2 separate regions of the Homo sapiens genome follow, and region 2 is linked to region 1. Evidence: fine-mapped expression QTL. Tissue or cell type: whole blood. Region 1 holds a variant in brackets; the other region holds the start of a gene. All regions are shown on one strand. Distances are from middle to middle.

Region 1 (10,218 bases):
CCAGAATCACCCAGCTAAGCTACTACCACATTCCTGATGCTCAGAGAATGAATCTCATGGAGCCAACAAAAAATAATCAGAACATATTTAAAACAATCTTATGAATGGTGTTTTGATAAAGATTTGATAAGAGCAGAAGAAACATTAGGGTTTATATAAAATGAGGATATATTATACAGATTGGACCTTATACAATTGTGGGAGCTGGTTAAATGTTTATGTACAGCTATTGTTTCTGTGTTTCAGGCTGGAATCTGAAATCAGAAAGGCAGGCAATGAGGAAAGAAAGATGGACATGAACTGGGGGCAGCAAAACTGGAACCTGCAAAGACAGGTTAAAACCTACACCAGTTTCTCACTGTCCCCAAGCCTCCATAGAGTGGCATTGGTGGGAGAAATAGGTACTTTTCCTCATGTAGCTGAAGTGTGTCTAGCCCAGGAATCAGTGAAGCAGAAGACATTGGCCCAGCAGAATCTGGAGGAGCTACAGACCCAGCTGCTGTCTCATCCTAACCAGGCAAGCCAGCAGAACAGTAACAGCAGGTACCAAGCACCAATGCCTTGTGTGCTGCACCAACCTTGTGAGTGTAAAGTGAATACGGCTCCTACTTCACGTTCACCTTCCTAATCTCACACAATTGTTGGTTGTGGCCCAGCTAACCCAGAACTATGTAGAGAATTCTGGAGATGTAGTTCCAGCTAAATTAAGTTGATGCAATACAAATCCACCACAGAGTTGGAAAAGGACAAAATATAATAATGACAAAATATAATAATAACAAAATAAAATATTAAGAGAATAACCTACTGCAGCTAAATATGGTTTATTCCAGAGAAGCAAGGGTAGTTTTATGTTAGAAAAATCTGTTAATATAATGGCGTTAGTTCAACAACTCCAATATAAAAAATTGTATGATAATCTCAATAGATGACAAAAAGGTATTCAGAAAAATTTAACATTCATGCCTGATTTGGAAAAAAAATCCTCATAGAAAACTAGGAATAGGAAGATACTTCCTTTAATATATAATATTTCATATTGACAGCCTGCATTATCTTTAATGTTAAAAAACCAGAATCATTCCCATTAAATCCAGGAAGTGGCAGAGATGCTAGATGTCTCCATTGTCACGTAACACTGTTCTGGAAATTCTATCTGATGCAATAAGACATGAGGCAGAAATAAGAGGTAAGATTATCAGAAAGGAAGAGACACATTATTGTTATTTTCAGACAATATGATTATATATCTTTTAAAAACTGCAAGATAACCAGCTGAAAGCTCTTAATATTAGTTCATAATAAGTAAAATGATGGCACACCAAAAAAAAGTACAAAATTCAGTAGCTTTCCTCAATGGCAGTAATACCATTCAGATAACATAATGGGGAAGGGAATTCAATCACAAGAGATATCAGAAAATATTAAATGCCAGTGATGTAGACATTTTTGAAGAACACAGATTATTTATTTTGTTGTGTGTCTCTCAGTTTGGGTTTGTCTGATGTTTCCCTATTACTAGATTCAAGTTTTCTATTTTTGGCAAGGATATCTCAGAAGTCATGTTGTATCCTTCTCAGTTCATTGTATTATGAGGAACATGATGTTAATTAGTGTCATTATCAATTCTAGCAACTTTGATCTCTTGGTTAACGTGGTGTCTGCCAGATTTTTCTAGCATAAAATTATTTTTCTCCCTGTGGTTATTAAATGTCTTGTGGGAATTTATTTTGACACCATGGAAATATCCTGTTTCTCATCAAACTTTCACCCACTGTCAACTATTTTAAATGACAATGCTAGCAAGGGTGTGGTGAGATGTATATTTACACACAGTGCTAGGGGGTCATATAAATAAGTCACATTCTCTGAAAAGCAAATGATCAGTCCTTATGAGGAACATTAAAAATCATCAAAGTCTTCGATCTAATAATTCAACTTCTATGAATTTACTCCAAGAAGGATGAAAACCAAAAGTGTGGCCAAACAGGTATCCCTTTCATTTCAGAAATCTTAGTATAGTGAAAGTTTGGTAACAAGGTAACTGTCCAACAATAGTTAATAAATTATCATGGTTCTGTATAATGAAATAATATATAACCAATTATACTATTCTTAAAGACTAATGAAAAAATAGTCACTAAGTAATGTCATTTGAAGATATGGTATTTTAAACTGTATATACAGTATGTACTTACAGGTTTAAATTTTTTAGATAAAAAAACACCAAAATTTTAATAGTATTTGTTATCAAGGGCAGTTTTTCAGGTAACTTTCATTATTTTCTTTTATATTTTCCAAATACTATACAATAATATACTTATATATTCTTTTTTATAATTGAAAAAATCTTAATAAAGAAACACTGTGTGCAAGTTAATTTTCCTGCACATTTTCTTTGTGCAAATTTGTGGTCGATGTGTTACCTCTGCTAGAGTCAGCAACAAAGAATCAATGAAACAGCTGACAAAGCAGGTGAAATCACTTTGATATGTTTGGTAGCCATTAAAATGTAATGTGTAATACTGTACAATTACATCCATCTGCTCAGACCATTTTATTTTTTAACCTCATTTATTTAATCAGTAAATGACCCAATATTTAGGCAACATTTTATAATTTACAGTGCACTTTCATATACATTTTCTCATATGTTAAATGCTGACCTGTTTTAGGTCCTTTTAATCTGACCATGGAGAAAATCTTAAAAATGTCATTGAGCACTAGGGTCATCTTGCCTCTTTAGACCTCTCTTTCCTTGCTTTAAGAATATTGTGGTAAAAAGCACATATCACTTAGGCCTGTGATATGATTTGGCTCTATGTCCCCACCAAATCTCATGTTGAATTGTAATCCCCAGTGTTGGAGTTGGGGCCTGGTGGGAGGTGATTTGATCATGGGGGTGGCCCTTCATGAATGGGTTAGTACCATCCCTCGGTGCTGTTCTCATGATAGTGAGTGAGTGAGTTATCCTGAGATCTGGTTAAGTGTATAGCACCTCCTCACTCTTCCCTTTCTCCTGCTCTGGCCATGTAAGACATGCCTGCTTCCCCTTCACCTTCTGCCATAATTGTAAGTTTCCTAAGGCCTCTCCAGAAGCAGAAGCCACTATGGTTCCTATACAGACTGCAAAACCATGATCCCATTAAACCTCTTTTCTTTACAAATTACCCAGTCTCAGGCATTTCTTTATAGCAGTGTGAGAATGGACTAATATAGCCTGAGACTCCAAACAACAGGATTTGAGTTGTCTGTCTCCTTTTTATTAACATGTGACCCTAGGTGGATCATTTCATGTCTTTGTGCTTCATTTTTCTCATCTTCAAAATCGAGGATTCCTAAGGCTTCACTTAGCTTTATTAGTCTATGATTCTTATTCGGTATGCCCATTTTCTTCATGTCCAACATTTTTTCTTGACTGGTTCCTTTGAAACGTCAACAACCATCTGTGCCTTTGCAGGGTATCTGCAAATATCATCACACAAATATGCCTTAACAAGTTCACATCAGAAAAGGACTGGATTTTCTTTTGCCCTGACAATCATAAGCATTAGGCAAATCTGGATTTCCATCTCATTTCACCAGAAACTTTGGGCATCTGGTATCTCCCTTCCTAATTTAGCCCCCTTGAATGACTGTTGGCCACACTGCACCAGAGGGAACTTTATAAATAAGTGCACAGATATTAGGCATTATGTGAGAGGGCAAGTCACAGTACTCCAAGATCAGTAAACAATGTCGCCAATAAACACTTCCCAATGAGTTAGGAGAAATAGGTAGCAAGGAGAGATCATGCCCCCAATTTCTCTCAAGGAGACCAGGCCTTGAGCAGCTGTTTATAAGAATGTGATTTTCACTTGACACTCACACTAAACCCTGGTCCCCCCAGTAAGAGCTACAGCACTTTAAATGAAATGAGCTCCTTATAGAACACGGTTTGATTAAGTCTTGAGTTGCCTCATCTAAGGTCTGCTCTGGATAAGGCTTGCTAAACTTGACAAGTTTTTGAGGCTTCCAGGAGTCTTTGTCAAACCTGGAGTTAGGAATATAAGAATATGTGTTAAGCACCAACCATGGTATGGTTAAAGCCAATTATATCCATTCACTCATAGCAGTCTTGTAAGCTAGCTCACAAAATGAGAAAAATGTCTCAAAGAGGTTAAGTGAGGTATCCTAGGTCATACAACTAGGCAAGTGTGCCTGACGAAACTTATGATCTTTCTACTGCACTGTGGCTATCCAGACCTGGGGAATTCCAGATAGGTTTCAATCCCTCTTCATTCTGTTGCTGTAGGGTCATACATTCATTTACCAAACATTTATTGAATGTCCCGTGTGTGTCAGGAACTGTACTAGGCTCTGGGAATTCATTATTGAACAAAACAGAAAAACAGTGGAGAAGACTGATAGTAAACAAAATAAAAAGTAAAACACCTTGTGTGTGAGCTGTGATGTGTTAAGGAGAATGGTAAGATTTATTGACAGAGGAGAGCAGTTTGAGATGTGGTAATTTTTAAAAATTTTTTTTATTTCAATAGGTTTTTGGGGAACAGATGGTGTTTGGTTACATGAATAAGTTCTTTGGTGGTGATTTCTGAGATTTTGGTGCACCCATCACCTGAGCGGTGTACACCGTACCCAATGTGTAGTCTTTTATCTCTTACCACCCCCAACCCTTTTCCCCAAGTCCCTAAAGTCAAATGTATCATTCTTATGCCTTTGAATCCTCATAGCTGAGCTCCCACATATGAGTGAGAACATACAATCTTGATTTTCCATTCCTGAATTACTTCACTTAGCATATTAGTCTCCAATTTCTTCCAGGTTGCCGTGAATGCCATTATTTCATTCCTTTTTATGACTGAGTAGTATTCCATGGAGTGTATATGTGTGTGTGTATATATATATATA[T/TAC]ACACACACACATATATATATATACACACATGTATATATATATATATATATACATATACATATCACATTTTTTAACTACTCATTTGTTGATGGGCATTTGGGCTGGTTCCATATTTTTACAATTGCAAATTGTGCTGCTATAAACGTGTGTACAATTGTCTTTTTCATATAATGACTTCTTTTCCTCTGGGTGGATACCTAGTAGTGGGATTGCTGGATCAAACAGTAGGTCGACTTTTAGTTCTTTAAGGAATCTCCTTACTGTTTTAAGTAGTTGTTGTACTAGTTTACATTCCCACCAACAGTGTAAAAGTGTTCCCTTTTCACTGCATCCATGCCAACTTCTATTTTTTTTTAATTGTTTGATTATGGCCATTCTTGCAGGAGTGAGGTGGTATGCACCGTGGTTTTGATTTACATTTCCCTGATAATCAGTGATGTTGAGCATTTTTCCATATGCTTGTTGGCCTTTTGTGTATCTTCTTTGGAGAATTGTCTGTTCATGTCCTTAGCCCACTTTTTGATGGGATTGTTTGTTTTTTTTTTCTTGCTGATTTGTTTGAGTTCTTTGTAGATTCTGAATATTAGTCCTTTGTCAGATGTATAGCTTGTGAAGATTTTCTCCCACTCTGTGGGTTGTCTGTTAACTCTGCTGATTATTTATTTTGCTGTGCAGAAGCTCTTTAGTTTAATTAAGTCCCATCTACTTATCTTTGTTTTTGTTGCATTTGCTTTTGGGTTCTTGGTCATGAAGTCTTTGCCTAAGTCAATGTCTGGAAGGATTTTTCTGATGTTATCTTTTAGAATATTAATGGTTTCAGGTCTTAGATTTAAGTTTTTCATCCATCTAGAGTTGATTTTTGTATAAAGTGAGAGATGAGGATCCAGTTTCATTCTTCTACATGTGGCTTGCCAATTATCTCAGCACCATTTGTTGAAAAGGGTGTCCTTTCCACACTGTATGTTTTTATTTGCTTTGTCAAAGATCAGTTGGCTGTAAGTATCTGGCTTTATTTCTATGTTCTCTATTCTGTTCCATTGGTCTATGAGCCTATTTTTATACCAGTATCAGACTGTTCTGGTGACTATGGCCTTATAGTATAGTTTGAAATTGGGCAATGTGATGCCTCTAGATTTGTTCTTTTTGCTTAGTCTTGCTTTGGCTATGTGGGCTCTTTTTTGGTTCCATATGAATTTTAGGATTGTTTTTTCTAGTTCTGTGAAAACTGATGGTGGTATTTTGATGGGAATTGGATTGAATTTGTAGATCGTTTTTGGCAGTGTGGTCATTTTCACAATATTGATTCTACCCATTCATGAGCAGGAATGTGTTTCCATTTGTGTCATCTATGATTTCTCTCAGCAGTGTTTTGTAGTTTTCCTTGTAGAGGTCTTTCACATCTTTGGTTAGGTGTATTCCTAAGTATTTTATTTTTCTTGCAAGTATTGTGAAAGGGGTTCAGTTCGTGATTTGATTCTCAGCTTGGTCTCAGTTGGTGTATAGCAGAGCTATTGATGTGCGTACATTGATTTTGTATCCTGAAAGCTTTGCTGAATTCATTTACCAGTTCTAGGAGGTTTTAGGTTGAGTCTTTAGGGTTTTCTAGGTATACGATCATATCATTAGCCAACAGTAGCCCTTTTGTCTTGTTCCAGTTCTCAGGGGGAATGCTTTCAACTTTTCCTCTTTCAGTATAAGGTTGGCTTGTCACAGATGGCTTTTATTACCTTAAGGTATGAGATGTGGTAAATTTTGAGATGTCTATTAAACATCCAAATGAAGATGTCTGCATAACAGTTGAAAATACGTGTCTGGAGTTTAAGAGAGAGGTGAATGAAAACATCTCACTATAAAAAACAGAGGAGAAATCCTAGGGTTTTCTCTATTTGTAATTTAATAACTCCTGGTCTTGACCCTATCAGCTCCAGGGCAAAGACCTGAAGATGAAAAGTAATGGCGTGTTTGAGACACTAAAAGATACTCAGTGTGGGTGAATGTGGAATGTGGGGGGAAAATGGATCAAGAGGATCATAATTAGCTTGGACTTTGTTCAGGTGAGAATAGGAGGCCATAAAAGGGTTTAAAGGAGAGAAGATGTGTGCTTTAGCGAGAGGACTCAATCAGTCATGAAGACTAAATTGAAGAGCAAGGCTGTAGGCAAGAGGCCTGACCAGAAGCTGCTTCAGTAGCTCAGGTGAAAAAGACTGGAGGCTTTTACCAAGGCAGTGGGAAAAGATGGAGATAAGCAAGTGGGTTCCAGTTATATTTGGATTTAGAATCAGCAGGGCTTAGGGAGTGATTGGAAATAAAGGGTGGGCAAAGAGTGTGAAGGGAATTGAGGGTTCCAGGTTTCTGGCTTAGATGGCAGTGCCACTTACCAAAATGGAGATGAAGGAAGAGAAGCTGATTTGGTAAGGCCGAGGGTGAGTTTAGTTTTGCATATATTGTGCTCAAGGTGACTGGAAAATCCAAACTATACAGTTGAGTGTGTGCATCTTAAACCCCTGGGTAAAATCTGAACTGTGCATATTTGGGATACACACACAATACACACACCCACACAAAACAAAGAGTGTGTGTGCGTGTGTATGTGTTGTGTGTGCATATCCCAAACATGTGCAGATGAGGTCATCCAGGGCTAGTGTAGAGCATGCAAAGACAAAAAGACAAAACCCCAAGGAACCCTACATTATCCATATGCACGTCTAATTCATCTTTTTAACAACCCCATGAGTTAAATTTTATCTTTTCTGATGCAAATCAATGAGAATGACTGAAGTGAGTCACAATCATTTCAGAGGTTTATTTTGCCAAGGTTGAGGACATACCTAAGAAAAAGGAACACAAAACCACAGGAACATCTGTGATCTGTGCTTTTTCCAAAGAGGGTTTGGGAACTTCAGCTTTTAAAGGGGAAAGAGTGGGCAGTAGGGGAAAGAGAAGTGAAAAAAGAAGGAGAAGGTTAGATAAAAGGGGGAAGCAGTGTCATTGTTTTGAGTCTTTGATCAGCCTTCACTGAATCCATGTTTTACATGTAAAAGGAGGGGATCGAGGAAGAGTCAGTTATGCATTCATCTCATGCTCTGTGAATCTGCATTGTTACATAAGATGAAGTAAACATAGAGTAGAGGAAGCAGTCAAACATGCATTCATCTCAGGTGAATGGAGAGATGACTTCTGGTTCTGTCCTTGGTTCTATATCCGTGAAGATAAGCTGTTAATTTACATTGTCAAGGTGAAATTCAACAGAACTGATTTAGGGTAAAGATCTTGGGGCCCACAAGGAATTGCCTTGTGAGCAAATTGTGAGGGAGGTATGTAGCCTTTTATCTTTGTAACTATCTATTTAAGAACAAAATGGGGGGAAGTTTGGATTGACTCAGTCCCCAAGTTTGACCTTTCCCTTTGGCATAGTGAGTTTGAGGGTCCTGAGATTTTAATTTTCCTTTCACACTGTTTTCTCCACAGCTGAATGATGAAACAACCATAGGCATTTCCCAGTTCCCGGCCTCAGGAGGCCTATTTGTGTAACATCTGGGACCCTTTGCCAAATCAGCTTACATGTGGGTTATACATTTATTACACGAGGCATCCCTGCTGTGTGTAAAGCACATGAAGAAATCTTGAATACTGTCATGAAGCCTCCTTAAAAATGCTAGTATGAAGTATCCTACACAGGTTAAAATTAGAACCCTCCCTCCCATTTTTGCAATCTTTGGGTAAGGATATTTGGGCTGACACTGCAGTTTAGATTGAAAGCCAAGAAAGTTATCAACATGGTAAAAGTCAAGTTATAGGACCCCAGAGATCAGACAGGACGTGGAAGTCTTCATACATGAAAATAGTCTTTGGTCCACAAAGGTGAGAAAAGTAATAAAATTCCCACAGGTTTCTTCTAGTAAGATAATTGGTCAGAAGAAAATATCACAAATGCAAGGTATTGTGCTATTATTTTAGCACCTTTCTTGTAGGAATACATAGGAAGAAATGTAAAATATTCCTATAGAATCTTTAGAGAAGCTTTCCATGTGGGCTGATCCCAAGTACTAGGACAGAATACAGGCTTTTGAAAGGAGCTTTTAAAAATAATAGATAAGTGTTTTTTCTTTTGAAAATTGTTATATTGTGTGGTTTTAAAATATTTAAAATCTCCAAACAGAAATCCACTGAAGTGCAATAATTTTATTGTAGGATAGACTGAAAACAATATTTAACCCAGCAACTGGGCATCAAAGTGAGAAAGATTATATGCTAGAATGGCACAGGGAACGTGTTCCATGGTCTGCATTGCTGACTGCCACAGAACGCCTTGGGAGCAGGCTTGAGGCTTTCAGTGTCATTATGTAAGTACTCATAGACCACTTAGCCATGAGATATGACTTGTACATTTATATAAAGGAGAAAAGAAAGTCATTTTCCAAGTTAGTTTCCACAGCAACAATATTCCATATTTTCTTCTTCTGTGTCTAAACATGAGCATGCCTCAACTAGGGGGTGGAATATAATTCTTGCAAAATACCAGTTAAGACCAACCGTGAGTGTGAAAGCTTCAGGGATCACATTCATTCAACAAGCACTGATTACAAGCCTACCCTAGACCAGGAACTGTGGGAGACCTTGGAGATGTAGGGAGGAAGAAGCCCCAAGGTCTGCCCTCTAGATCCTTGTGTGCAATGAGAAAGAGCCAGATAGAAGGATGAATTAATAGAATGTGATAAAGTGCTATAATGGAGATACGTTTGGAGTATTAGGAGGGGGCAATTAACAGCCCCAAGAAGTCATGGACATTTGACCTAGATTTTGAATTTGAAAGAGGTATTTGACCTTGATCTTGAATGATCAATAAACTTTTGCAAATTGGGGAGGAAAGACGGGAAAGTGGGCAATTAAGACAAAGACAAATGTATGTTCAAAAACATACAAACTGAACAAATAGAGGTATGGAAGAGCAAAATCATTGAGAAAAGACAGGGTGGAGGGGGTGAGGAAGAGGCTATGAAGTAGGTTGAGGCTGTTTGGGAAGCATAATATGTGCCTAACTAAAGTGTAAGGATTTGATCTTGTAGATGATGAGAAACCACCAAACCTAATAACGCAGAGGCGAGATCAGTTTTATGCTATTAGAATATTCACATGAGCTGCAGAATAGACAATGAAAATAATTGAAAGAGTTGGGAAGAATGAAGGCAGAGTGATCCCCCTAAGATTTCATAGTTTATCTCAGGGTTTGAGAATGTACTGGGATGTAAAAACATGTGCATATGCTTTGGATCCTAATAGAGTACTCAGCAAAAGTTAGTTCTCTC
Region 2 (10,218 bases), 47 kb after region 1:
GAGGTCTTAGGTGATCTCTGTTAGAACACTTTCCGTAAAGAGATATGAGCTGATTCCAAGCTACACCACATGAAAAAAAAAATGAGTGAAAACTGAGGAAACAGAGTTACAACAGAGGACACAGAGAGTGAGACAAGGTCAGTAAAAAGTCCAGTCTCTTGACTAGCACTACCTGAATCCCTAGTCCAATTCCCCGCCCAGGATGGGGAAGACTTAGCTAGAGCCGCAGGCCAAGGACATGGACAGAAACAGAAACAGAAATACAAGAGGGAGAGAGGATAAGAGCTAGATCAGTGTTTGGCAGAAGTCAGGAAATGAGGACAAGAATGCAAGTAGGGGATTAGCCTTGAAAAAATTGAAGAGTTAAACCCTTCTGCATTTGAGGCAAGAAGTGAACTTGGATTTTGCCAGAGTTTGGTTTGTGGAAGGAGATATGGAGATTTGAAGAAGTTCATGCCTAATGTCCCCCATGTGAGGGATAAAATAAGAGGGCAAGTAACCACCCCTCTCCATACCAAAGAGTGAGAATTAAAGAGTGATGAAGCAGGCTTGAAAAGATGGTAAGGACTAGATGAATAGGAAAAGAAACTGATTAGGAATAAATTTAAGAACTATACTTAAAGGTAGAATTCATGCATTTGTAGTAAAGTAATTGGCAGGGTTACCAGGTTTTGTGCAGCAGAACTCAGAAGTCGGGGAGGGTTCCATTGTTTTGCTTGGTTGATTTGCTGTAGGTTGGGGGTTAAAGAGGAGGAACAGAAATAAAAGAGGAGAGCTAATGAAGAATGGTGGTTAGGATATAGTTAAAATGATTGAACATGGTGTCCAGGCTGGGTGGGGAAGGAATTAACAAGATGGGCTGGAAAAAATCAGAAGTGACTAAGCAGCTGTAGACCTCAATGACATAGAGGAGGTGAGAAATGGGAAAGCTGGAAGTAAAATGAGAAAGTGCTATTGGGAGCTCAAGATTCCCAAAGAAGAGGGTGTTTCTGTGGGAGAGGGCTGCTGATATGGAGGGAGGCCAAGCTCATTGGAGTAGAGGAGGTTAGAGCAGAGACTAAATTGTCAGCTCAGACTTCATCAGGCTAATCTCCCAGGCCCATAGCATGAGACAATAGGCAGGAAGCTAGAGAGCCAGTTGCAGAGTCCACAGTGGCTGCAGGAAAGTGACCTGGAGGCTACAGATGATGGAGATAGGATGAAGGAGTATAAATTGGATGCTGGGAGTTTTAATGTAGGAGGGACTCTTATTATCTCTTACTTACTAGAATGTTGATCTGGATACGGCAATGGGCAATCGATAGAGGAATGCTCCAGAGAGCAGAAGGAAGGGCAAAACTGAATGGAGACCAAAAGACTGGAGAGACGGGTGATCGGAGGAGCTCATACCTTACATGGAATTGTGGGATGGGCCCAATCAGATTCAGGATTCCAAAGGTAATGTAATTATATATAATTGGCTGATGCCTAGAACACAGCAGGTTCTGAAGAAATATCTTTGTAATTAATGAATGTCTTTTGCTTTTAGGATTTTTTTTTTTTTTTTACCGTATGTACGTATGTATTCAGTTTCCATAACTTAGTCTTTAAACTTGCTGGCTCACCTGTAGACAGCTTCCAGGCCTCCTCACCACAGATTACAATAGATTATTCAGTGCAATTCAACTCCTTCATTGCCTATCTGTTTTCTTTCTCTAGAAATCCCTTTCTATAAAATGTCCAATTTAACTCTATATATAAGAGAAACAAAAACATAAAGTTTCTAGACTCTTTTTCTGAATTAATAAAAGTAACAATAATAACTGGGTGGGGTTATTGTGACCTCATTGCAGTTTACAAATTATCTCAGTTACCCATTTGTTTCTCAAAATCCCACAAGGTAGGCAAGATGGGTATTACTATGTCCAATTTTGCACATAATCCGTGTAGATAGGTCCTGTGACTTTCCAAGACTGCACAGCTTCACATGGTGAAAACAGAAGAGCCAGCCTGGAACCCATGTACTTCAAGTCTGAATTACGGTCTAGGACGACGGTTCCTTAAACTTCAGTATGAGTTTTTCTTCAAAGTACAGATTTAGTAGGTCTGGGATGAGGTTTCGGAATCTGCCTTTGAAGCAAACATCTGATGCTCATGTTTCAATGACCATACTCAGAAAAACACTAATCTAGAAAATCCTTTTCCCCCTTCTCTCTTAAAGCGGGGAGAAAAAAGAGGGAGATCTTACCTCCTATGAATCAAAGGACTTTTCTCGCCTTGGAGAACTGGAGCCCCCAGCTCTTCTCTTCTGCGACCTACCCACACACACTGATAAAGTTAATTATCTGCCCTGGCTAAATGACTTTCCTTAGCAACACCCTAGCAACTGACATCAGCTCTGCCTTAGGCTACAAAAACTGGAAGGAGATTTCTTGAAGTCCAGTATATTTTACAAAAGAACAAAACATCTGAACAGGAAATTAAGGGGAAAGTAAACTGGATTCATTGCTAGGAGATGAGAAATAGACACATGAAATAGTTCATGACAATCCACTGGACCACAGTAGTCAAAATGGGAAACTTTTTCTCCTCCTCAGTTCTACTGAAGTCCACAGGAGGGGAGACTGCAGGATCTCATTCTATGGAGGAAAATTTAATCAGGCAGGAGGAGGGAGGGCATTCCAGGCCATGAGAAAGCTGTAAGCAAAGGTGCTGAGGCAATACTGAAGTGGAGGACACGGGGAGCCCAGCTGGGTGGTGCTGGGAGCTCAGATTGGGATCTATGACCAGGCATGACCAGATGGACACAGTGAGACCAGATTGTGGATGGCCTTAGAGGCCAAGTCTTAAAATTTGGGCAGAGTCAGAAGGCACTGAGGGTAGGCTTGTTAAAAAGTTTTTATTCAGAGAAAAAATATTTATGGAACCCCTACCAGGGGCCGGGCACTACGATGTGCACGGAAAATACAGTGGTAAGCCCCATAGACATCCCCTACCCTTCTGGAGCTTAGAATTTAGAATGGAGACAAATACTGAACAAATGTAAAATTTTAAACATCAAACTTATAAATCAATGGGTCATTATAAATCTTAATATTAAAAGAAGCCAGGTGTGGTGGCTCATGCCTGTAGTCCCAACACTTTGGGAGGCTGAGGCAGGAAGATTGCTTGAGCCCAAGAGTTTGAGACCAACCTGAGCAACATAGGAAGACCCTGCCTCAAGAAGAAAGAAGAAAGAGGAAAGGAGAAAGGAGAAAGAAGAAGGAGGAGGAGGAGAGGGAGGAGGAAGAAGGAAGAAGAAGGAGGAGGAGGAGGAGGAGATTAAAAGAAAAGGTACTCATGAGCTTCAGCAGAGTTTTGGGGGCTGGATCTATTCTAGGAAATCAGAAAGGCCTTCTTTGGGGAGGCAGTTTTGCACTGAGATCTGAAGAGTACATAGGAGTTGGCCAATGGAGAGTGGTGGCTAGGAGAGACCAAAGAGCATGATAGGATTCCAGGCAGAGAGAACAGCACAGGCAAAGCCCATGAGAGAAGAGCTGCATGGCTGGAGAAGCAGATCAAGCAGAGCCTTGGAGGCCTGGCTGAAGATTCTGTCTTTATTCTGAGAGCCCTGAAAAACCACCAAGAAAAAATGTTAACCTCAGGATTGACATTCAAATCTGCATTTTTAAAAAGATCACTTGGGCTTCAGTGCAGAAGACAGATGGAAGGAGAGCACAAGTAGACAAGGGCAACCCAGTTAGGAAGATGAGAGAGGATGTCAACACAGACAGGGGTAGTGGTGGAGAAGAGCGTGAAACTTGATGTGGTGATGGATCGGATGAGTGGAGAAGACAGCAGAGGTCTGAGTGACAGCCAAGCTGGTTTAGGAAAACCTAGCTCATGTAGTGGGATTGGAGCTTGGTGAGCTGGTTAGAGCCTGCCGTCATAGCCCAGATGATAGGGCGAACACTGTGTACTGGAAAGTACCTCATTTGGTGTTGGGGATGCCTGTTTTAAATCCTGGCTCTTTCCCTTAATAGCCATGGAACATTACCTCAGCAGGTAATTTCATAGGCTCCTAATCTGAACAATGGGAGTGCGGAGGTGAATTGGGACTGCCTACTTCCCATAGTTTTCCTGTCAATATCCAATAAAAAGTTAAATATTGCATTCCTGCCTACTTCATGCCCACCCATCTCCAACTTAGATTTGAACCTTTTGTAGATGAATAGAGGTTCAAGAGCACAGATTTGAGCTTTCAGACATAAAATAAGCTTTGTGAAGACAGGGGTCACAATTTATTCATTTCTGTAGTTTCCTGCCCTCTGAGATAAGATCAGGTACACTTTCAAGAACCACTTATTTTAGTTTGTAGCATACATCACAATTATAATTTTAAAAGATTCATATAATTATGTATTTAATATTTGCCTTTGCCACAGGCCTGTAAAATCCTCAAAGGCAAGTAACATATCTGTGTTTTGTATCCAAGCACTGAGCACGTGGAGGGTCTTTGTCATGAATGAATGGATGGATAGAAGGATGCATGGATGGATGGATGGATGAATTTTTGTTCCGTCTTCTACCTACCGGTCAGCACAGAGTCTAGCTCCAAATCTACACTTAATGAAAGTTTGCTGGATGAATGGGACCGTGCAACTTGGAGTGCAGCATGAGCTCTGAGCCAGTCGAGTGAAGATGCAGACAATTCCCTCAGCACTCAGACATGGATCTGAGCCTCACCTCAAAAAGGAGGGCCGATCAGCTGGATCAGGTGCTGCTAGGGTCAAGAAGGGCTAGGGATGAGAGAAGAGCATAATTGGCTTCAGCAAGGGGTTACTTTCAGGTGACCTCTGAGAGAAGGCGTCCAGTTAATAGTGGCAGTGGGAATTCCAGCACAAGCACTAAGGAGTAAGTGGGCAGGCAGGGAGGAATGGAGATCTCCCATGCACCTAGCGCCCTGGGCCTGTTTGTAGCATTATGAAAGAGAAAACCCTGACCTGGAAAGCAAAGGAGATTGCTTGCTAATTGTAGGCACTTGAGGTGTGTCGAAGGCCCTGGGCAAAGAGAAGACGAGGAAACCAAAGCTTCTGAGGGCACCTGGGGAGGGATGTTTGTGTGCACTGAGAGGCAGGGGGCTTATGGTATCCCCAAGCGGGTGAGGGAGCAGGCGCCACTAGAGACCAACTAGAGTGTTTTATATGGGTCATATCATTTACTTCTAGCATATCACCCCACTACCTCTAAGAAGGATGTACTGGCACCCACCCCCACTTCCTTGTTCTCCAGAGCAGGAAACAAGCTTGGAGAGTGCGATAACTAGCCCAAGCTTCACAATGGGTGAGTGGCAGGACTGAGGTTTGATTCGGGTCTCTTCCCAGAGAGACACTGGGAGAGATTCTTGCCCCAGGTCTTTTCCCTTCAGGCCCTCAGGCTCAGCACCTCTCTGAACATCTGTCCCTGGGGAGTGAGAATCTGAACTAAAATGTAAGCCAAGAAAACACAGGCTCTTCATTGAATCTTTGGAAACTCCTTTCCTGGGCTGTAGGAGGACCTTCCTGAGCCTTAGGCACTTTTGCCTTTGCTGGCTCTTTCCTCCAAGTCAAGCATATTTTATGACTGTGGAGGTATAAATACAAATATATTAACATTATATAGTAAAACATTTTGTTTGACATAAATTTTTTCTTCTGATTTTTACAGAAAACATTTTCATAGATCTCCAAAAGTATCGTGGGCCCTAAGCGCTGTAGCTAAGTCGTTTCTCCTTTCTCAGCCTCCAGTCTGACATGTTCCACTATGGCCTTGGGAAGAGCAATGGGCCCGGAGTCGCCGCATCTAACCCTGCTGTAACTGGTCGCAAGTCACAGTTTGCTCATCTATAAAGTGAGCGAAAGTAATGTAATCTTTATTGGGAGTAGGGAACATGAAGGCGAGTCGATACAGTAAGTAAGCCGCCAAGCATATTGCTAGGCACAGAGCAGGTGTGCAACAAAAGTTATTTCTCAGGCTTTCCCTCCTCTGAGCGCCGTCCTCCAGAGGGTCCGGAGTGTAGCTGGGGGTTGGAGCAGCAGCCTCCTAGGCGATGGGACAGAGCCCACAGGGTCCGGTATGCCACGGTTTCTTCGTCAGACCCTGGGAATCCAACGTCGCAAAATAAACACGGCCGCGCCGCTAATCGCCAGTTCGGAGGAAACAAAACAGCGCTGCGCTGGGGGATCTGGGCAAAATCAGCCCTCCCTCCTCCCGCTCCTTCGCCGCGGCCCTCCCCTCCTCGCGCTGCTCTCGTTCGCTTGGCTCAGCTCAGCTCAGCTCAGCGCAGCTCCGCGGCCGCCAAGCCGAGGCGGGCACGGTCTCCGAGTCGCGGACGCCAGCTCCGAGCTCCCTCTCTCCGCCGCGCCTCCGCCAGGTCGCGCCTTCGTCGGGACCACTTCGGGCAGGAGTCGCGTGGCGAAGGCCTGCGGCCGCGGCACAAAGTTGGGGGCCGCGAAGATGAGGCTGTCCCCGGCGCCCCTGAAGCTGAGCCGGACTCCGGCACTGCTGGCCCTGGCGCTGCCCCTGGCCGCGGCGCTGGCCTTCTCCGACGAGACCCTGGACAAAGTGCCCAAGTCAGAGGGCTACTGCAGCCGTATCCTGCGCGCCCAGGGCACGCGGCGCGAGGGCTACACCGAGTTCAGCCTCCGCGTGGAGGGCGACCCCGACTTCTACAAGCCGGGAACCAGCTACCGCGGTAAGTGGCCGCCCGGCGTGGCATTAGGAGAGCGGGACCCGGTCCCCGGAGGGCGCCGACCTCGCGGTGCCGGAGGAGGGCGCGCGGTCTCCGGGCGCGTGGCGCGGGTGCAGCCCGGCAAGGGCCCTTCTGTCCTGGCTGCCCTCGGCCCTTGCAGTCGCGAGCTCGGCGCGGATCATAATCCAGCGTCCCGGGCCGTCGCGGGGGCCGCAGCCAGGAGAGGCACCCCGCGTTTCCGACGCGCGGTTCCCAGGCGGAGGATGTAACTGAGCCACACGTCACGCCGGCCTGACTGCAAGGGAGGCTCGCTTCTCCCCCGGCCGTCTGCAGGAGGGAAGTAAAACTGCCTTTCTCCAAATCGGTCTGGAGGGGACCCAGGCTTCTCTTGGTCGGGTCCCGGGCAAGGCAGCCACTCCAGCTTTCCCCGCTCAGTCCCTGAAGGAGAGGGTACCCGATTCTCAAAGACTGGCCCTGGGCGGGACAGCCACTCCGGCTTCCCTGGATAGGTCCCTTCAGGAGAAGGGACTTTGGCTTCTCCCTAACCGGTCCCGGGGTGCGGGAAGGAGGGGCAGGGACAGCCTAAAGCTCCTCGAAAGGGTCCTTGGAAAGAACCCCAAATTATTCTCTCGTGGTCCCAGACGAGATAGAGTATCTTGGGTTTCCAGAACAGGTTCCCAGTGGGGACAGGGTCCTCAAAGAGCTTGGGGTAAGCTCCGAGCTGCAAGGGGAATTGGATGAAGATGGAAAGAGAAGCCCCGATGCCCGAGGCCTGCTCCCTGGAGGCCGGGGAACCTTGGCTCCGGCAGCTCGGAGTCTCCACGTCCCAGGGATGTCGCGCCTACGCCGCTCGGCTGAGAGTGGGGTTTCGGGAGCTCAGGGAGGAGGTGTCCAAGCAGGTGAGAGCCTCCTAGGCGGGACAGGCAGTTCGACCAGCACCGATCTGAAGACGCCTGACTCTGTCCCCACGCCCGCCACCTCGCTCCTCAGCAGGGTCATCTCCCCAGACATCGTTTCCCCGTGCAGCAGCAGCCGCTCTCCGGGTGGGGGACAGGTAACCAGGAAGGGAAGCGAGCCTGTCTGGCCTCACCTTAGCTCCCGCCAGGGAGCGTGTCCTCTCACCCTCGCCCCTTCATAAGTCAGCTCTGGTGCTAAGCAGGGATGAGCGGGTCACTGGGGCACCTGGTGGGGCAAATGGGCTCCCAGCTGCTGTACTTTCCTCCTCGCCTTCCCAGTTCCCCAGAGAGCCTTGGACGGAAGCGGTGGGAGCAACACAGGAGAAAGTCTGGGGCAGCGTCAGCGGGCGCCAGGGTCACGCCGGAGACCAAAGCCAGGGGCCACCCTTCTTGGAGCGCTTTTCCCCCTTTCCCGGGTTTGTGTCCCCGACTTTCTCCACCCGGAGCTACCCAAAGCCGGCTCCTTGGTGCCCTTGGCACCTTGGCGTGCTGAGCACTTTGCGAGGAACAGTCTGACCCCGGCGCGCAGCTCCGCGGGATCCTGGGTACTCCACGAAGAAAGATTCTGGGCGGAGAACACCCCGCCCAGCCCGGGAGGGAGCGCGCGGCTTGGCACCGCGGCTAGAGCGAGCCGCGCCGACGGGCGGCGACTGCCACTCGGTGCAGCCGGGAGGCGGCCGATCCTCCCTGTGGACCGCAGGGAAGCGGGTATGACTTCAGTGGCCTATTCGGCCCTCCCCAAAACTGAGGACCTGAGTTCACAGGGGAAACTGTCCCCGCTCCACGTAGCAGAGAAAGAAGTGGCTCTGGAGTCCAACAGACTTGGGTTTACTCGCTGTGTGACCTTGTGCAAGTCATTTAATTTCTCTGCACCTATTTCCTAGCTGGAAAAAAAAAAAAGCTGTTTATCCACCCTCTCTTGGTGGTAGGGAGTAAATGAGTTTACAAAGGTGAGTGTGCCTGAGCTAAAAGAGATTCCTAATAAGCCTAACAGTTGAATGTGAGGCCTTTATTGGTTTACTAATGGAGGTAGGTTCTTGATCAGATTTTTGTTTTTGAAGAGTGTTGTGCGTTTGAAAGCAGGTTTCCTCAGCTCTCCTCCAGTCCCATTCATCTACCAGTGGTTATTTGGGTCCTCATGAATTAATTGAATGAATGAATGAGGTATTTTTTCATATCAGGAGCCTTGCCTAAGACTGTTGCTAATGCAAGCCCAGGAAGATTTTTTCAGTGACTTAGACTAGTCTGAGGTTCAGGCCAAGTGTACCCAGCGTCTCTTTTCACACTAATCCTCCGTGTTTTAGTTGAGCATTGGCAGCTGGTGGCCCTAGCACTGGGAAGGAGATACAGCTGGTATTCACGGGGCCAAAGAGGTTTCAGAACTACCTAAACGTCCAGGGCCAGCAGGTGGGGAACTGGGACTGGATAGGGAGTGTCCTGGACTTTCACCCTACAGGCTACTCCTGCCTAAACAGCCATCTGGACTTTGACACCCCAACTCAGGCTATAGATTGGGCAATCATCTTTTCTCCCTTCTTATGGCTAAAAGACCTTGGAAGAGATCTTGCAGGAACCATGCTGAGGTTTTCCAAGTAAATATCCTGCAATTAGCAAACCTGATTCTGCCACTCAAAGTCCGAAAGAAAAGGTACTGGCCTAGTTTGTGACATTTTCTGTTGGCTCCTTCTTTCTTAGAATAATTATGTTAAAAGTAACTCAAACACATTCTGCTCATTGTCCTGACTTAAGGCTGTGAAGCTGGCATTCCCCTGGTGTTCTATTTGCTTTTTAATTTTTTCATGAATTAGGATTCCTCACAATCCTTGGAATCAATGACTTGTTTTCCTGCCTCAAATCTTTGTCCACAGTATTCCAGTTCATCCCCAAGCAGCTTCTGTTCTTTGTGCCTGCTGTCTAAGTACAGTCTTTAGGTACTCTAGACCGGAATAAAATGGTCACTATTAAAAAAGACTGAAACATGGAGTTTCTTCCCCAAAACCTGAATCCAGTTGAGATCATTATTTTGTCTTTTCCAAGTTGTTAGTATTATATTGATTTCCTTTTCTTTCCCACCACTTCTCTCTACTCTCCCTCCCTCTTCCCACAGTCCCCCCTCCCTCCAACGGCAATAATTGTGCTTTAGAAAGCTCTGAAAGGCCTGCTCTGTTTCTGGCCAGGGCCTCCTTTGAAAAGGAGATTACAGTGATTAAAAATAACAAGTTGAGGATCCTCAAGGGGCTTCCCTTATACAGGAGGACAATTCGCAGGACCAGCCTTTCCCAGATCACAATTTCAAGCCAAACAGAAGAAAATCCACTGAAATATTCAAGAATTGATTGAAAATAAAAGAGGCTCTTTTGTCTTACTGGAGGTCTGTTTATTAGGAAAATAAAGTCAGACTCTGGCTAATGAGAGTGGCTTTTCCTAGATGTATTTTAAAGAGACATTTCAAGGAACTTGATGGGAAAAGAATGTCCAGTAGAGGTTTCAAAAGCTGGTCCAACTTCAAGCATAATTGAGGGGTTTATCCTAAACTGGGAGGTTTGGAGACCTCCAAAGCTGCATGGTTTTTCC

The links. PIP is the estimated chance that this variant, and not a neighbour inherited with it, causes the effect.
Region 2: it holds the start of SPON1, and the variant in region 1 is fine-mapped to the expression of SPON1 in whole blood (INTERVAL, PIP above 0.99).

Annotation. Positions count from the first base shown.
Region 1 is chr11:13,909,641-13,919,858 of GRCh38, forward strand. No RefSeq gene overlaps it. Among named protein-coding and RNA genes, the nearest start is that of LINC02683, 10 kb to the right of the region's middle. The variant T/TAC (reference allele first, on the strand shown) is at 4,912.
Region 2 is chr11:13,956,452-13,966,669 of GRCh38, forward strand. It overlaps SPON1 (spondin 1), which reads left to right and starts at 6,272. Exons shown (of 16, transcript NM_006108.4): 1 at 6,272-6,691. The coding sequence starts at 6,454. LOC124902637 (a long non-coding RNA gene) reads left to right here and starts at 6,706. Exons shown (of 2, transcript XR_007062602.1): 1 at 6,706-8,594. RefSeq lists an enhancer at 9,557-10,075.